2 separate regions of the Homo sapiens genome follow, and region 2 is linked to region 1. Evidence: fine-mapped expression QTL. A gene starts in region 1. The other region holds a variant in brackets. All regions are shown on one strand. Distances are between the middles of the regions.

Region 1 (2,937 bases):
ATTTATGCAGCCAAAAAACACGTGAAAAAATGCTCATCATCACTGGCCATCAGAGAAATGCAAATCAAAACCACAATGAGATACTATCTCACACCAGTTAGAATAGCGATCATTAAAAAGTCAGGAAACAACAGGTGCTGGAGAGGATGTGGAGAAATAGGAACACTTTTACACTGTTGGTGGGACTGTAAACTAGTTCAACCATTGTGGAAGACAGTGTGGCGATTCCTCAGGGATCTAGAACTGGAAATACCATTTGACCCAGCCATCCCATAAGTGGATATATACCCAAGGGATTATAAATCATGCTGCTATAAAGACACATGCACACGTATGTTTATAGCGGCACTATTCACAGTAGCAAAGACTTGGAACCAACCTAAATGTCCAACAACGATAGAGTGGATTAAGAAAATGTGGCACACATACACCATGGAATACTATGCAGCCATAAAAATGATGAGTTTATGTCCTTTGTAGGGACATGGATGAAACTGGAAACCATCATTCTCAACAAACTATCGCAAGGACAAAAAACCAAACACCGCATGTTCTCACTCATAGGTGGGAACTGAACAATGAGAACACATGGACACAGGAAAGGGAACATCACACACCGGGGACTGTTGTGGGGTGGGGGAGAGGGGAGGGATAGCATTAGGAGATATGCCCAATGTTAAATGATGAGTTAATGGGTGCAGCACACCAACATGGCACATGTATACATATGTAACAAACCTGCATGTTGTGCACATGTACCCTAAAACTTAAAGTATAATAATAATGAAATAAAAAAAGAAAAAAACTGTACTGAGAAGACTTTTTGCTTATTTAATTGGAGATAAATTATCTAGAAAATATATTTCCCTTCACCCTGTATCAAACTTGAGTTGAAACAAGGAAACTGAGGTGGTTATGTGACTTTGAGACACCTGTTTTTTATGTTTGCCAATTAACTCTTCCCTCTACTCCCACCCTTGGCTGCCTTCATCCAGTTAAGAAGACATCAAAGAAATAAGGAGTCTAGTGTGATCAGTCAATGTAGTTGACAAAAATAATTATCCTGTAGCATATTTTAAGAAGGTAACTAGAGCTTCATTTTTGAGACTTGATTTTTATTTGTTTGGAAATTAATAAGACCAAGATTTGAAACTTTATATTTAAATATATAAAGGTATTATTTTCTCTACTTTATTTTTAACAGTATATAAACCTGAGGCTCTTCTACTCCCAGAAGGAATATTTACTATGTTTTAAGGGCTCAGAATGTAAGCGTGTGGAAGACACAGAGCATAAAATTCGTAATATTTTTCAAGACCATCAAAATCTTCTTCCGTGAAAATTTCTTACATAAAATATATGTAAAAATTAGAGAATCTCAATGGTTCTTACCTGGATTTAGAATCCTACAGCAACTGCAACAAGTCCACCCTTTATTCCTCTTAAAGTAGTTGGCTTTTTGAAAACAAGTCCAGTGATGATTAACCACCTTATTATGTCATTGCTCTAGTCAAACATATAAAACCTAGTTAGTTTTAAGAGTTCACTCCAGTTGCCAATATTTAAAGATTATATTTCTCAGAATTCTCACATTATTTTTTGTTAATCTTAACAAGTAAACCTTACTTTTGGGAATGGCTTTTACTTGTTTATTCAATTAAGTTGGTGGCATAAGATTTTTTTCTTTAAAAATATGAGTACAATAAATTATTCCAGGTATTTAAAACTTCCAAATAGGAAATAATTTAAGACAAATAAAAAATATGCCTACAGGTTACATTGGCATTTAAAAATTAAAATATACCCTCTTTGCTTGGTACATAAGTATGGTTCTAACGTGGTATGTATGGAGACTGGAGATACCACCTGGAATAAGAGAGTCCCAATTAACTGCAAGACCATTTTTCTGAATGATGAAAATTAAGACTGCTTTATGCGATAGATTCTTTACATCAAAACAGGAAAGAATTATTAATATCACAGTTTCCTTTTATTGACTTGACTTGTGGAGAAAGGAAGAGCTTAACTCAGTTAAAAGTTTTCTTGAGTAGAGATGAAGTTTAATTAATTCAATAACTCAAACATTTTAGACTCTCAATTATACCTTGGACATTAAGCTCTCTTCTGAAATAAAGTACAGACCCTTCTCTCACATAAATATATATATTTCAGAAAAGTGTGAAGATATATGTATGTATATACACACAAACATACATGTATACATATATACACACTTTTACCTGTATACACATATGCACATATATATATGTGGTAATGTGAGGATGCATATATGAGAATATGGTTACCCCTTATCATTCATGGGACATTTGTTGATATGGTTGCAGCAAAATGTATTTGATGTCTGTGCCACAGTTATCTGATTGATTAGTTCTATTCTTGGTTAATTATTGAGAGTATTGGAATCATGAGACAAACTAAAGAGTAGTGTAGAGGGGAAGAATGACTGTGCAGAACTGAGAAATGTAGACCCAAGGCCAAAATATTAGAGTAAGGCTTCCAAATACTCTGCTGAGTAAGAATCTACTGGCGAGTTGTCAAAATAGCAATCCAGTCCCATACCCAGCAGATTCTGGCTCAGGAGACCAAAGATTATGCCTGTTAAATAAGCACTTTGAAAAATTTTCATGTACTGCCAGATTTTGATATCATAACAGGAATGCAGAACATTTTCCATCATTTTTATGGACTTCCTTTTATTCACAATGGGAATACAGTTTGGGTTTTCTCAGGCTAATGGTTTTCTCCTCAGACATCCATTTCATTGAAAACACATCAACATGTTTGGAGACTAATATATATATTATATACAATGAAGATAAAACAGTACAAACTAACTAACAACCTTTATAATCCTGAGCTAAAGGTGCCAGTTGTAAAATTCTCCAATATTTTCAGAGGTCAAAGAGCATTCTCTGT
Region 2 (2,937 bases), 91 kb before region 1:
AATATATAGGCCTTCCACAATTTACACGTTTATTGTATTCAAGACAATTGTTTATGAATTGAAAGTTTTGTACTAAATGTGTATTTTTTCCATAGGTGCATTTAGGTTCCATCGTGCCACAGATTGGATACATCGAAATAGGATACTCAGAATTAGAATGGTGAAACTCATTTTTTTTCCTATTTTCTATTGCTAAAAAAAATTTTACTCCATTCTCATAGTCTCATTTCTACATATGAGAAGGAGTACTAACAACCCAGATGTTACTTTAAGCTTTTGTCACCCAGGTTCTAGCAGAGAGGTATCTCCATTGAAACTGAAGGTAGAAACCTGCCAGAATGTACAGAGTCTGGGAGATTAGAGACACACAAAACGGAACGGAGGGAAGAAAACCAACAGAATACTATAGCATCTCATTTCCTCTCTTCTATTCCCTTTATATTTCTTCTTTTTTAACTTTGAGGATTTGTGACTTTATCATCAAATACGCTTCTTAGACAATTTCTTCATTGTAATTTGGCCATAGCCTGGCCAGATTCTCTGACCAGATTCCCACGCTTCCCAAGCTAGCTTTAGGCCTTGCCTAAATCATGCCACAGTTTAGAAGTTAGGCCCTTCACTCTGCCTACTGGGAGGAAATATTCTTATTTTTCTGAAAAAAAAGAAAAATTTGGAGGACCATCTATCTTTGTGTTTGAAAGAGTGTAATACAAATACAATAATTCCTTAGTCTTAACAGATTGACTTTATGTATAATTAACAATCGAATTCTCCTTTAGGTCCATCACTCAATTTTACTCTGTCTCTTATTGTTTTTATTTATCACAGAAATAGAAAGGATACTAATTTTATTTACTATCATAATTAAAGATTCATTACAGTCTTTAATCCTTGACATTAATATTTATAACTTAAATTTAATATATGTATGTGTGTGTGTATATATATATATATATATATATATATATATTTTTTTTTTTTTTTTTTTTTTTTTTCATCATACCTAGTGCTCGTATAACCATTGAGTGGAAACCCAGTGCAAGTGATTTCAATTCAGGTTGAACAATTCTGAAACAAGACAAAGGCAAAGAAACATTAAATATCATTAAAATATCAAAACGAAACAACATTAAACCTTCTCCTGTGTTGTTTTTCTCCATGATAGAATTAAGCTCACAGTTGAATGGCCCCATTATATAAAATTATATTTTAATTGTTTTAAAAGGCAAACACTTGAG[C/G]AATAATAATAATTATTCCCTTATTTATTCAATGCATCATGATTTCAAGATGGCTTAAAATATTTTCTCATATGGTACTTATGAAAATCCTATGAGGAAGTGGTTAGAACAGACTTTATTATGCCTCTGAAGATACTGATTTTTTGTGGTCTAGTCAGTGTTATAATAAGTGTGAAAGAGCATGAGTCTTTTTCATAAAATGATTTACTTTCCTTTTGGTAGATATCCAATAGTTGGATTGCTGGGTCAAATGGTACTTCTATTTTCAGATACTTGAAAAATCTCCACATTGTTTTTCATAAAGGTTGTACTAATTTATATTCTCAACAGTATATAAGCATTCCTTTTCCTCAACATTCTTACCAGTATCTTGCTTTTTGACTTTTTAGTAATGGCCGTTCTGACTGGTATAAAATGGAATCTCACTGTAGCTTTAATTTTCATTTCTCTGATGATTAGTGATATTGAGCATTTTGTCATATGTTTGTTGTTTGTTGACTGTTTGTCTTTTGAAACATGCTGGTCGTATCATTTACCCTATTTTTAATAATTTTTTTCTTGATGAGTTTTTTTGTATTTCTTATAGATTAAGGATATTAGCCCTTTGTCAGATGTATTGTTTGTAAATATTTTTTCCCTTCCTGTAGGTTGTCTGTTTACTCTGTTGATTATTTCCATTGCTGTGCAGGAAATTTTTAGTTTAAGTCCCATTAGTCTATTTTTGTTGTTATTGTTGCATATCATCAGTGAACAGAGTTTATTTGAGTTCCTCTTTTCTAATTTGGATACCTTTTCTTTCTTTCTATTGCCTGATTGCTCTAGCTAGGACTTCCCATACTATGTGCAGTAAGAGTAGTGAAAATAGACACACTTGTCTTGTTTCAGGTCTCAGGAGAATGCTTTCAACTTTTTTCCTTTCAGTATGAAGTTGGCAGTGGGTTTGTCATACATAGCTTTTATTATTTTGAGGTATGTTCCTTTGATGCCCAGATTGTTGAGGATTTTTGTCATGAAAGATGTTAAATTTTATCAAATAATTTTTCTGCATCTATTGAGATGATCATATGGTTTTTGTTTTTAATTTTGTCTTATCAAATGGTTTTGGTTTTTAGTTTATTCTATGTGGCAAATCACATTTATTGATTTATATATGTTGAACCAACCCTTCATCCCTAGAATAAAAACAACTTGATCATGTTATAAAATTTTTCTTATGTGCCATCGGATTTGATTTGCTAGTGTTTTATTGATAATTTTTTCATATGTTCATCAGGGATATTGGTTTGTGGTTTTCTTTTCTTTTTTTTTTTTTTTAGACCAGTCTTGCTCTGTCTCCCAGGCTGGAGTGCAGTGGAGCGATCTTGGCTCACTGCAGCCTCCGCCTCCCAGGTTCAACTCCTGTGAACTCTCAGCAGCCCTTGACACAGTTACTTATGCTCTTTTTGACATATGCTTTATTAGTTTGAGGACAACGCTCTTTCCTAGTTTTTCTCATGAAACCTCCTCAGTTTTCTTTATTGGTTTCTCCTATTAGTGATCTTTAAATTAGAGTGATTGAGAACTGATCCTAGGATCTTGTTTCTATCTGTACTCAGTCCCTAGAAGATCTCATTAGTTCCATGGATTTTAATACCGCCTTGGGGGATTGCTTGAATACAGGCATTCAAGGTTACAGTGAGCTATAATCATGCCATTATAC

Direction of the effects. Positions count from the first base shown, and alleles are read on the strand shown. Sizes are in standard deviations (SD) of each study's normalised expression.
For the expression in iPS cells of the gene that starts at base 1,435 in region 1, allele G in region 2 goes with a higher level than allele C (large effect, 0.91 SD a copy in PhLiPS).

Evidence for each region. PIP is the estimated chance that this variant, and not a neighbour inherited with it, causes the effect. A credible set is the group of variants that fine-mapping cannot tell apart.
Region 2: its variant is the best candidate, but not a certain one, in a credible set for the expression of SLCO1B1 in iPS cells (PhLiPS, PIP 0.66).

The regions. Positions count from the first base shown.
Region 1 is chr12:21,129,692-21,132,628 of GRCh38, reverse strand. SLCO1B1 (solute carrier organic anion transporter family member 1B1) reads right to left here and starts at 1,435. Exons shown (of 15, transcript NM_006446.5): 1 at 1,393-1,435.
Region 2 is chr12:21,220,431-21,223,367 of GRCh38, reverse strand. SLCO1B1 (solute carrier organic anion transporter family member 1B1) reads right to left here. Exons shown (of 15, transcript NM_006446.5): 13 at 1,004-1,068. Among named protein-coding and RNA genes, the nearest start is that of SLCO1B1, 91 kb to the right of the region's middle. The variant C/G (reference allele first, on the strand shown) is at 1,239.